Linked DNA regions of Homo sapiens: regions 2 and 3 are each linked to region 1. Evidence: fine-mapped expression QTL. A gene starts in region 1. Each other region holds a variant in brackets. All regions are shown on one strand. Distances are between the middles of the regions. Region 1 holds the start of TXN2 (thioredoxin 2). Region 2 overlaps EIF3D (eukaryotic translation initiation factor 3 subunit D). Region 3 holds the start of MYH9 (myosin heavy chain 9).

Evidence for each region.
Region 2: its variant is fine-mapped to the expression of TXN2 in whole blood (INTERVAL, PIP 0.99).
Region 3: its variant is fine-mapped to the expression of TXN2 in whole blood (TOPMed, PIP 0.91).

The regions. Positions count from the first base shown.
Region 1 is chr22:36,479,952-36,484,115 of GRCh38, reverse strand. TXN2 (thioredoxin 2) reads left to right here and starts at 2,476. Exons shown (of 4, transcript NM_012473.4): 1 at 2,476-2,552; 2 at 3,279-3,541. The coding sequence starts at 3,279. RefSeq lists an enhancer at 1,100-2,046.
Region 2 is chr22:36,508,056-36,512,219 of GRCh38, reverse strand. EIF3D (eukaryotic translation initiation factor 3 subunit D) reads left to right here. Exons shown (of 15, transcript NM_003753.4): 14 at 434-717; 15 at 1,220-1,365. The coding sequence ends at 1,233. Among named protein-coding and RNA genes, the nearest start is that of FOXRED2, 3.1 kb to the right of the region's middle. RefSeq lists an enhancer at 797-876. The variant C/T (reference allele first, on the strand shown) is at 2,491.
Region 3 is chr22:36,384,000-36,388,163 of GRCh38, reverse strand. MYH9 (myosin heavy chain 9) reads left to right here and starts at 197. Exons shown (of 41, transcript NM_002473.6): 1 at 197-357. RefSeq lists enhancers at 1-180, 1,804-1,853, 1,611-2,324, 2,364-2,553, 2,325-3,038 and silencers at 1-553, 584-663, 944-1,173. The variant A/G (reference allele first, on the strand shown) is at 2,008.

The DNA.
Region 1 (4,164 bases):
TGCAGTTTGAAAAACACTGCAATAAATATTGGTAGGAGGTAGAAGTTTTACCCTTAGCCCAGGCTGCCAGTCCTGGCTTCCTTCCCTTTGCCTCTCAGCTGTGCCCTGAGCCTGCTTGTGACTAAGCCAGACCCAGGCCAGCTCAGCTCTAGCTGGACAGAGGAGCCACCATGTAGCTGAGAGCCCTTTTGTAGCGCGCCGAGAGCTCAGCCTTCTCTGTGTCTCTCAGGCTTTCCCTGCAGGAGTCATCAGGCAGCAATGATGTGGATTCTGTCTCTACTGCAACCCTCAGCCCAGCTATGAGAAAGGCATTCTTCCCATTGCTCAGATGAGAAGCCTGAGGCCGATCAGGGTGAAGTGACTATGGCATAAGGACAAACAGGACTGGTCCGCCTGTGAAATTCAGAATGTGAATTAGGCAGGAAAATTGGCTCTCTAGAAAATACTGTGGAAGTGCTGAATAGGATTGATAGGTGGCTGTGGAAAAGAAAGTGCTAGAGACACAGAAAACCGATACAAAAATGGGCAGGGCGGCCAGGCGCGGTGGCTCACGCCTGTTATCCCAGCACTTTGGGAAGCCGAGGCGAGCGATAACTTAAGGTCAGGAGTTCGAGACCAGCCTGGCCAACATGGTGAAATATAAAATTTCTGTACCAAAAATATAAAAAATTAGCCAGGTGTGGTGGTGCTCGCCTGTAATCCCAAGTACTTGGGGGGCTGAGGCAGGAGAATCCCTTGAACCCTGGAGGTGGAGGTTGCGGTGAGCCAAGATCATGCCACTGCACTCCAGCCTAGCTACAGAGCAAGACTCCGTCTCAAAAAAAAAAAAAAAAAGGCTGGGTGCAGTGGCTCACGCCTGTAATTCCAGCACTTTGGGAGGCCCAGGTGGGCAGATCATGAGGTCAATAGATCGAGACCATCCTAGCCAACATGGTGAAACTCCGTCTCTACTAAAAATATAAAAATTAGCTAGGCGTGGTGAGGCACGCCTGTAGTCCCAGCTACTGGGGAGGCAGAGGGAGAAGAATCCCTTGAACCCAGGAGGCAGAGGTTGCAGTGAGCCGAGATCGCGCCACTGCACTCCAGCCTGGGCAACAAGAGCGAGACTCTGTCTCAAAAAAAAAAAAAAAAAAAAAAAAAACTTTGATCAACAATTTGGAAACTGCCTGTTCTTTTAAAAACGCTCTTTCAGCTGCTGCTAATCCGAGTGTATATTCAGGACAACTTGAATCTCTGCTCCGAGTTGCAGTCTTCGAACTTGACCCAAAAAAACTCCCTGCTTAAATTAGGCTCGCCTCAGTTTTCATTTGTTTTCCTTTAGGCGGACACAGACGAGGGCCACTTAAAGGATGGCCCCTAAACTCCCGGTTGAGTTCTTTTACATATAAAGGGCATCATGCCTTTGAGGAGCTTAGCTTTACATATTAAATGGAGAAACAGAACCTGTCAACATCTGTAGGAAGTGGACAGCGCCAGTTATAAACAGGAGGCCAGGCAAGGTGGCTCACGCCTGTAATCCCAGCACTTTGGGAGGCTGAAGCGGGCGGATCACTTGAGCTCAGGAGTTCCAGACCAGCCTGGCCAACATGGCGAAACTCCGTCTCTACTAAAAATACAAAAATCAGCCCGGCGTGGTGGCGCGCGCCTGTAATCCCAGCTACCTGGGAGGCTGAGGCAGGAAAATCACTTGAACCCGGGATTTGGATGTTGCAGTGAGCGGAGATCACGCCACTGCACTGTAGCCTGGGAGACAGAGCGAGACTCTGTCATTAATAAATAAATATATGTAAATAAAATAAAGCAACAAGAGTTTGCAAAATCCAAAACCACGGGGACTTCTCAACTGCCTTTTCTCCCTTAAGTACCCTCCATTGCTACCCCTGCTCCATCACCTCCTCTTCCGGTCCCTCCTCTAGGGCCCGCCCACCCCTTCCGTTTCCGCCCCGCCCCGCCCCCGCCTTCGCCCAGACCAGGGCCCGCCCGCCTCTTCCAATCCGTTCCCCGACGGCCTGCCCATTGCTTCCGGTCCGTAGCTGAGGCCCCGCCCCTTCAACTGTGCCTCAGCCCGCCATTCCCATTGGCGGAAAATCCCAGACGCCCCTCAAATTGGAGAGGGACAGATGGGCGCTGTGGCTCACGCCCGTAATCACAACCCTCTGAGAAGCCGAGGCGGGCGGATCACGAGGTCAAAAGATCGAGACCGTCCTGGCCAACGTGGTGAAACCCCGTCTCTACTAAAAATAAAAAAATTAGCTGGGCGTGGTGGCGCGCGCCTCTAGTCGGGAGGCTGAGGCAGGAGAATCGCTTGAACCCGGAAGGCGGAGGTTGCAGTGAGCCGAGATCGCGCCACTGCACCCCAGCCTGGCAACAGAGCGAGACTCTGGCTCAAAAAAAAAAAAAAAAAAAAAAAAAATTGGAGAGGGACGCTCTTCCGCCTGCCTGTACCCGGAAGTGACGTTATGTACGTCCCCCCCCGAGGAAGTGACGACAGGCGTGCCCTTGACAGGCAGGGAGGGCTAGGCTGTGCATCCCTCCGCTCGCATTGCAGGGAGGTAGGAGCCCTGTGGGGGTGGCTCGAGGTGGTGTCGCGGCTGAGGCATGCCGCGAGCGCGTTCCTGCGCAGGCTGGCGGCCGGGCGGGCGGGGGGATCTAGCTCGCCGGAGAGCCAGGGTCCCTGGTGATGTCCGATTTTTCCCAGTTCCCTCCACACATGTCCCTTCTTTATTGGTTCCCTCCAGTACATGTCTCTTCGTTTTTGGTTCCTCTCACACTCTTAGTTCCTCCTTGAATTGTTGCGTTTCATCTTTTCAGACGACCCTGGGTTCCAGTGTTGGCTGTCATTTAATAGCGGGGTTACTTTGGGCATGTCACTTAACTTACTTGAGCCTCGTATTCCTTCCCTTACTCGCAGTGTGGGCAGTACAATAGCAACTTCCTGGAAGTTGCTGTAGGAAGACCAATAATGTGTGTAAGGTACTTGGTCCTTACATACATTATTAAATCTGTTGGTTTCTTCCTCCCATTCTTCCGTTATAATCTAAATCCCGATTTCTTTTTGGTTGTGAAGCCAGTTTTCCTGTCCTTCTGGTTTGCCTAGCTGTTCCTTCCCTTTGATTCTCATTGCTTCCTCACTTCCACGCTACAAATCTTACATATGATTTCCTTGCATTTTGCTTCCAACTCTGCCTCTTCCTGAGCCCTGAGTACTCCCCAAATCTTTTTCTAGTGTGTCGACTTCCTTTTGTGTGCCCCAGTTCTTCTGCCTCTTTCCCTCACAGATGGCTCAGCGACTTCTTCTGAGGAGGTTCCTGGCCTCTGTCATCTCCAGGAAGCCCTCTCAGGGTCAGTGGCCACCCCTCACTTCCAGAGCCCTGCAGACCCCACAATGCAGTCCTGGTGGCCTGACTGTAACACCCAACCCAGCCCGGACAATATACACCACGAGGATCTCCTTGACAACCTTTAATATCCAGGATGGACCTGACTTTCAAGACCGAGTGGTCAACAGTGAGACACCAGTGGTTGTGGATTTCCACGCACAGTGAGTATTGGGGGTCCACAGAAGACTAGGGTCCTACTTGTTCAAGTATTTATTGAATGCCTGCTGTGTCCCACGGCCATGTTCTATGCTGCTCATATGTAGACTCAATATACAGACTGGTCAGGCCCAGTCCCTGCCCTCAAGGGGAATGCAGTCTGGTGGAAGACAGACAAGTGAACAGTCTGCAAAGCTGACTGTTAGTGCTGGGAAACACATGTTCTGTTTCTCAATCCCCAGAAAGCTCAGCGTCATCTTTAGCATGGACCAGAGTTGGAAAAATATGACTGTCACCTTGCTTTTGGTGTATACCAGTTCCTGGCCCTGCAGATAAGCTGATGTTAACATCCTGCCATGAAAACCGCAAGAAGGGCTGGCAAAAAGTTATCAGTGTCGGCCGGGTGCGGTGGCTCATGCCTGTAATCCCAGCACTTTGGGAGGCCAAGGCGGGCAGATCACCTGAGGTCAGGAGTTCAAGACCAGCCTGGCCAACATGGTGATACCCTGTCTCTATTAAAAATACAAAATTAGCTAGGCGTGGTGGTGTGTGCCTGTAATCCCAGCTACTCGGGAGGCTGAGGCAGGAGAATCACTTGAACCTAAGAGGTAGTGTTTGTAGTGAGCTG
Region 2 (4,164 bases), 28 kb before region 1:
TTTCCCTTTCCCTTGAAAATAGCAGTGGACTGCCGGGCGCGGTGGCTCATGCCTGTAATCCTAGCACTTTGGGAGGCCCAGGCTGGCAGATCACGAGGTCAGGAGATCAAGACCATCCTGGCTAACACGATGAAACCCTGTCTCAACTAAAAATACAAAAAATTAGCCGGGCGTAGTGGCGGGCGCCTGTAGCCCCAGCTACTCAGGGGGCTGAGGCAGGAGAATGGTGTGAACCCGGGAGGCGGAGCTTGCAGTGAGCCAAGATGGCGCCACTGCACTCCAGCCTGGGCAACAGAGCCAGACTCCGTCTCAAAAAAAAAAAAAAGAAAAAATAGCAGTGGACCAGGTATCACCATTTAATTGACATTTGATCCCAAGTGTTGCTGTCTCTGTGCTGCCCTGCTCTGACCACTGATATCCCTTCCCCTGTTAGTTATGTGTCTCGGTACCACGTGAAAGACTCCTCACGCCACGTCATCCTAGGCACCCAGCAGTTCAAGCCTAATGAGTTTGCCAGCCAGATCAACCTGAGCGTGGAGAATGCCTGGGGCATTTTACGCTGCGTCATTGACATCTGCATGAAGCTGGAGGAGGGCAAATACCTCATCCTCAAGGACCCCAACAAGCAGGTCATCCGTGTCTACAGCCTCCCTGATGGCACCTTCAGCTCTGATGAAGATGAGGAGGAAGAGGAGGAGGAAGAAGAGGAAGAAGAAGGTGTGTAGCAGCCCACTTTCTGAGGTCTAGAGTGATCTGTGGGCTAGCACGGGAGCAAGCTCTGTAGCCATTGTGATCTTTAACCTTGATAAAACTTCGAGAATTCCCTGAGACTTAAGTATGAAGAAGCATTCACTTTGGCTCCAAGAGCTTCTTCTAGAGCCTTTAGATCACATCAAGTGGTTGGGGAGGATAGCGGTGTTTTAGAGAAGCGGCTGGACTGTGGCAGAGGTAGAGGAAGATGAGGGAAGTCCCAGATTGAAGCCGGTGGTCTAGAGGGAAAAGCTCCGCTCCGGGTTAAATAGCCTGAAAGTTGTCTCTCCTGCTCCACCAGCTGGTGACTGAAGGAAATACCTGCCCAGCCCTGTGAGCATCTGAAAGGCTTAACTTCGGAATGGAAGTGTTGAAAACTCACGCACAGTCCAGCAGAGGTTCAGAAAGGAAAGTGAACATCATATCACACAACCTGGCTCATTTCTCTTACATTTTTTGTGTCTTTCAGAGGAAGAAACTTAAACCAGTGATGTGGAGCTGGAGTTTGTCCTTCCACCGAGACTACGAGGGCCTTTGATGCTTAGTGGAATGTGTGTCTAACTTGCTCTCTGACATTTAGCAGATGAAATAAAATATATATCTGTTTAGTCTTTCCCTCATCGTCTGCCTGCATTAACGATTTACAGTCGTTTCTTCAAAGATTCCTGACAGAGTGGGGATGAGATTCAGCAATTTCTATGTGGAATTCAGAATCTGGGTGTCCTCATTTGTTATAAGAAGTCCATTTCCACAAGCATGAGTGCCTGCTGGCTGTGTGAAGGGCCACCTGTTGCTTTTGGAGAGTTCACTGTGAGGAGCTGGAGTGCAGAGCACTAGTACAGCGTGAAGCAGGGTGTGGGTGAGGTGGGGCTGCTGCGCCTGAGGGAGGCTGCCACAGAGAGCTTGATGGATGTCCCACTGGGTGATTGTGTAATGGTTTATGAATTGTTTTTAAGCTTGGCTTGGGCTGGTGACACTCAGGCCTGTCCCTACAAAGCATTGTGTCATAAGAGCTCTGCATGTTGAGGATATGTAAACTTTTTTTTTTTTTTTTTTTTTTTTTGAGACGGAATCTCACTTTGTTGCCCAGGCTGGAGTGCAGTAGCATGATCTCGGCTCACTGCAACCTCCACCTCCCAGGTTCAAGCGATCCTCCTGCCTCAGCCCCCCAGTAGCTGGGATTACAGGCATGCACCACCATGCCTGGCTAATTTTTGTATTTTTAGTAGAGACGGGGTTTCGCCATATGGGTCAGGATGGTCTCGAACTCCTGACCTCAGGTGATCTACCCGCCTTGGCCTCCCAAAGTGCTGAGATTACAGGCGTGAGCCACCGCACCCAGCCGAGGCTATGTAAACTATGTAAGTGGACACTGTTCTGTTCTGGACACTTGATGGAGTAATTACCCTGCCAGGTATTAATGCTGAGCTTTCTGTAGTATCTAAGCCTCATACAGAACTGTGATGCTGGCAGGAGTAGTACCATTGTAGAGGTGAGGAAACAGGCATGGTGGCTCAAACCTCTAATCCCAACACTTTGAGAGGCTGAGGCAGAAGGATCACTTTAGCCTAGAAGTTTGAGACCAGCCTGGGCAACACAGGGAGACCAGGGCCTGTCTCTGCAAAAAAATAAATTATTAGCCAGTCATGATGCTTCCACCTGTGGTCCCAGCTACTCAGGAGGCTGAGGTGGGAGGATTGCTTGAGCCCAGGAGTTCAAGGCTGCAGTGAGCTATGATCA[C/T]ACCACTGCACTCCAGCCTAAGTGACAGAAGGAGACCCTTTATCAAAAAAAAAAAGGCCAGGTGCAGTGGCTCATGCCTGTAATCCCAGCACTTTGGGAGGCCGAGGTGGGTGGATCACTTGAGGTCAGGAGTTCAAAACCAGCCTGAGCAACATAGCAAAACCCCGTCTCTACTAAAAATACAAAACAGCCAGGCATGGTGGCACACGCCTGTAATTCCAGCTACTTGGGAGGCTGAGGCTGGAGATTCACTCGAACCCAGGAGGCGGAGGTTGCAGTGAACTGAGATCACACCACTGCACTCCAATTTGGATTACAGAGACTCTCAAAAAAAGCTCAGCATTTCTAAAGTTACAGGTTTTTTTTTTAAAGTAGCTTGAAAAAACACAAAATTAATTTTAATGAATCGAACCTCAGCAAGCAAAAGGTTTCTTGAACTGTGTTAGAAGCAGTGGAGAGAAAAAGTGTACTTGGGGAGTTTTCAATGTGAATACAGAGTGTTAAAAAACAGATTAAAGTGGTGTGACTAGTGCCGGGGGTTTCCAGGTTGGACCAGTATTCACCAAATTGCCTCTTGCAAACCATGGCCCTGTCCAACAGGATTAACAGAAGCAAGTGGAAGTGACTCAAGCTCATTCCCTGAAAATACTTTGCATCAGTTTCCACTGCCTTTTTTTTTTTTTTTTTTTTTTTTGAGACGGAGTCTTGCTCTGTTGCCCAGGCTGGAGTGCAGTGGCGCAATCTCAGGCACTGTAAGCTCCGCCTCCTGGGTTCACGCCATTCTCCTGCCTCAGCCTCCCGAGTAGCTGTCCACTGCTTTTATCTGTCCTGCATGGGGCTACCAAGTTGACTGCTGCAGTAATCCTACATTCAGAAACTCCCAGTAGCATCCTGTTGCTTACAATCTAGGTTCAGCCTACTCGTAGGGCCCTACCATACTTGACGAATTCTGTTTAATTTCCCACTACTGTATTCACCACATAAGACCAGCAATTATTTTAGGAACTTGTTTGCCAGCACCCATTCTCATAATCTTCACAACCACTAAGAAACAGACATCCCCAAATTGCATGACTATCAAAACATCTCATATGCCCCATAAATATATACACATATGCCCCCAAAAATTTTTTTGAAAAATTGGCCAGGGGCCATGGCACACACTTGTAATCCCTAGCACTTTGGGAGGCTGAAGCAGGATCGCTTGAGCCTGGAAGGTCAGGGCTGCAGTGAGCCATGATTGTGTCACTGCACTCCAGCCTGGGTGACAGTGAGACTCTGTCTCAAAAAGAAGAAATAAGACATCCCTACTTTATTTTTGGCAAAGTATTCTGCCTGACCTCTCTGGTTGCAATGCTTATTCAACAAATGCTTAAACTTCCGTATGTCAGATACTGGACAATTTCTGCTCTGAGGGAGCTTTTCTCTGATGTTGACACAGACTGAAGAAAGTAAATGACATTCGGCCAGGCGCGGTGGCTCACGCCTGTAATCCCAGCACTTTGGGAGGCCGAGGCGGGCGGATCACGAGGTCAGGAGATCGAGACCATCCTGGCTAACACAGTGAAACCCTGTCTCTACTAAAAATACAAAAAATTAGCCGGGTGTGGTGGCGGGCACCTGTAGTCCCAGCTACTAGGGAGGCTGGGGCAGAAAAATGGCGTGAACCTGGGA
Region 3 (4,164 bases), 96 kb after region 1:
TCCGCCCACCCCCTTTCCACAGGCCAATACGTCTGCCCATCAAGGCCAGGCGCGGCCTGCAGTGGGTGTAGCAGGAAGGGGGCGGGATTGTGCCCCAGGCTCCGCCCCGGAGCCGGCTCCCGGCTGGGAATGGTCCCGCGGCTCCGAGGGCGGGGCGGGAAGGCGGCGAGGAGCCGAGCTGGGTGCGGTGAGGCGCGCAGATCACCGCGGTTCCTGGGCAGGGCACGGAAGGCTAAGCAAGGCTGACCTGCTGCAGCTCCCGCCTCGTGCGCTCGCCCCACCCGGCCGCCGCCCGAGCGCTCGAGAAAGTCCTCTCGGGAGAAGCAGCGCCTGTTCCCGGGGCAGATCCAGGTTCAGGTGAGCGAGCCCCACCGCGGTCCCGCCCCGGGCAGGCGGCGGCGGGCGGGCGGGGGCGAGACGCGCTGCCGCCAGGCCGACTGGTGGTTCTTGGGCTCAGTGCGGCCCGCCACCCGCGCGGGCGGGGGCGAACGCCGGCGGCTCAGGGCCCGGCACCGCATCCTTCCCAGGGGGACCGGGACCCCCACGCGGGCGCTCGGGGAGGGCGCCGGCAGCAGCGAGGCCTAGGGGTGCAGGGGCGGCCTCGGGACCCGGCGCTCCCCGGCGCCCCCCGTGTCCCCCGGCGCGGTCTCAGGACTGGGCACTGGAGCCGACCTCCCCCAGCCGCTGGGGCACGCGCCCCGCCCTCGCCTCGCCCAGGCCCGACTCGGGCAAACTTTTTAACCCCTTCCGGGAGCCGCGGCCCCTGGGACGCAGCCTCACGGGTTGGGAGCCCGGGGCAGCCGCTCCCGTGGAAGTTTCTGGCGTCTGAGGCACGGAGGTAACGGGCAGCGGGCACCGTTTGGCAGCTGTCAGGGCGTCCTCCTGAGTCAGAGTCGGACCGTCCCGCTGCAGACCTTGCACCCGGCCCGGTTTCCGCCTCCGCGGCCGACTTCCTCATTCGCCCGCTGCCGTCGGACTGGTCGGGGAGGGCCCGGGGGAGGTGCGGCGGCTGCCCGGACAAGGGGGACCCGGCGGGGACCCGGGCGCGAGACAGGAAGGGCCACCCCCAGTCCCTGCTCCAGCCCTCGACCTCCGACTTCTGATCCTCGGGGGAGGGAGGCCCGGAATGCAGCAGCCGTCGGGGCCGCCCAGGCGTGCACCTGATTCCACCGCACCCAGGGGCCATCCCGTCTGGGCGGGGTGCGGGGGCAGCTAGCTCTGCCGTTACGAGCAGGCCTGGGCGATTGCATCTTTCCTGTTTGAGCCAAATCGGAGTTTTCTATTCTCCACTCCACGCACCCGCTTCCCTGTGCTGGGGTCCTCACCCCATCCTGTTCTGGGGCCACGCACAGGAGACAGGACTGCGGCACCCTCATTCTCCAGGGAAGCCCCGCTGTTTCAAACTGAGACTCAGCACCCCCAGCACTAGCTTGCCGGCTGTCCTGTGGTGGGGGGCAGGGTGAGCGCACGGCCCCACCCAGCCGGTGTGGAGAGAAGACTCCTTGGGAAGTCCCAGGTCGTAGAGGCAGGCGGCTGTCTCCACCGGGCAGTTGAGAGGCCCAGCCACTTCTCGGTTCACTGCGCCCTTTTCTGGGTTTAACAGGATTTCAAAGTGACTGATGAGTAACCGTGGAAAGGGAAGAGAGCCTTAGCTCCTTCTCCGTGCAGCGCAGCACTGTGGCCATTCTAACTACACTGTCTGGGCCAGTGTTTGGCTCACCTGATGGCTTAGGAGTCCCTTTTTGGTAAGGAGGGAGGCCTTTTGAGACAATCACTCAATTAATAATAGTCAGTTTATATACAAGGCTGCTATGTGTGGGGGAAGGGGACACAGATGTGTAATTGAGCAAATATTTAACTGCCCTCTCTGTGCCAGGGACTCTGCCAGGTGGTGGGGGGGTGGGAGGTTGAGTAAGACCTGGCCCGTGCCCATGGGCACTTAGGGGAGAACTGAGACAAATCTGTAGATGAGTCTAACGTGAGGTAGAGATGACAGGGACCCCGGAA[A/G]GGTACTGTGAGTCATGGGGATTGGGAGAAGGGAGCCAGACTGCCCTGTGAAATCCCCGGGGCCCTGCCTCTGCCCTTGGGGAGTTTACAGTCCTCAAGGGGAAAGTGGCAGAACCAGTGAAATACAAAGGCAGCCTGTGATGTGTGTCCCAAGTATGCCATAGACAAAGGACTCAGGAATTTCAAGGCTGAGAGGGGCCACTTCTCTTGGGCAAGGAGGAGGCTGCTACAAGGGAGAAGCACATTGCAGGTTTGGCAAACTGAGGCAAGCATGCGGTGTTGGAAAGTGAGGAGCCACTTAGTGGATAATTGGGGGGTAATTAAAAACATGGAGAGATTGCTCAGTGTAATTTGAGAGCCACTGCGCTCTGGATGACTGTGGGGTGACACCAAAGAACTTCAGTCTCCACACTCAGCAAACCCTGGCAGCGCAGGTGGGCAGAGCCAGGTGTCTGGAGAGCCGGCATTGGCAGGCTCTGGGGAGCTCCCCAGCCCCGGAGAGAAGGGCAGCATTCGGTGAGGCTGTTCATCTGAAAGGTTCAGGAGGGTAGAGGAGAGGGAGGGCCCTGGCTTTCTTGCTTTTATTTTTAAACTTTTTAACCTAAGGGGTTGGAGATGGGACAACTTCTCTCTCGTAGGATGAAGGACGCATGTTAATCACAGCCTGCCTTTTGCCCGCTCTTGCTCCAGAAAAAACAAAACAAGGATCTGTTAGCTCTTTAAAAGAAGAAAAACACACTAAAAAAATGCAGCATTGTTGTGTAGCCTGGTAGGGTATTGCTAGAAACCAGGCTGGCTGTTCTTCCTTTACTTCCTCTTCTAGCTAATTCTTCAATAAAGTACTTAAGACAGCCCTTACCAGCTTGACATCTTTATTTCAAAAGGAGAGGAGGGGTTGGCTGTTGTTTTCCTCTGAGCCTGGCCCTACCCTTCTCTTGGAGGGGGAGAAAGAGAAACCCAAAGCAAAGGAAAAAGAGAGAGAGAGAAAAAAAAAAACCCGTGCCTTGACAGCTTCCTCCCAAGCATCATGTTCCAAAAATATTTAGAATAACAAAATCTGTGTGTCGTCGTAATTAAACAAACGTCCTAATTTACTGAGCATAAAACAGCATCTCTGCCTGCTGGGGCAGGAAGTGCATTTCCCTTTGTGCAGCCCCAGAGAGTCACTGCCTCTCAGCCTTAACCCTTGGTGTGCTGAGACCCTGGGCTGGAGTCCTCTGCTGACAAAAGAATGGAGCCCTGGCAGTGCTGCTGCTGTGGCTTACTGAATCCCACTCTTAGAGCTGGGAAGAGTGGGGTAGTGGAAAGAACGTGAGCTTTGGAAACAGGCCGAGTTCAAATCCTGACCATGCTACTTAATAGCTTTGTGACCTTAGGCAAGTCACATAGCCTCACAGCTTGGATGTGCTTATGTATAATATGGGAATCAAGATCCTACCCTGTGGGGTTAGATGCATGAACTGAAAGAAATAAGGTATGTACATGGCCTAATATGTAGTGGCTGTATATATATATATATATATATATATATATATATATATATATTTTTTTTTTTTTTTTTTTTTTTTTTTTTTGAGACAGAGTCTTGCTCTGTCGCCCAGGCTAGAGTGCAATGGCGTGACCTCAGCTTGCTGCAACCTCTTCCTCCTGGGTTCAAGCAATTCTCCTGCCTCAGCCTCCCGAGTAGCTGGGATTACAGGTGCCCACCACCACACCCCACTAGTTTTTATATCTGTAGTTGAGATGAGGTTTCACCATGTTGGCCAGGCTGATCTCGAACTCCTGACCTCAGGTGATCTGCCCATCTCGGCCTCCCACAGTGCTGAGATTACAGGTGTGAGCCACCGTGCCCGGCTCATATATGGTTTTTGTTTGTTTGTTTGTTTTTTGAGATGAGTCTCACTCTCGCCCAGGCTAGAGTGCAGTGGCACAATCTCAGCTCACTGCAACCTCTGCCCCCAAGGTTTAAGCGATTCTTCTGCCTCAGTCTCCCGAGTAGCTGGGATTACAGGTGCCTGCCACCATACTTGGCTAATTTTTGTATTTTTAGTAGAGATGGGATTTTGCCATGTTGACCACGCTGGTCTGGAACTTCTGACCTCAAGCGATCCACCGGCCTCGACCTCCCAGAGTGCTAGGATTACAGGCGTGAGCCAC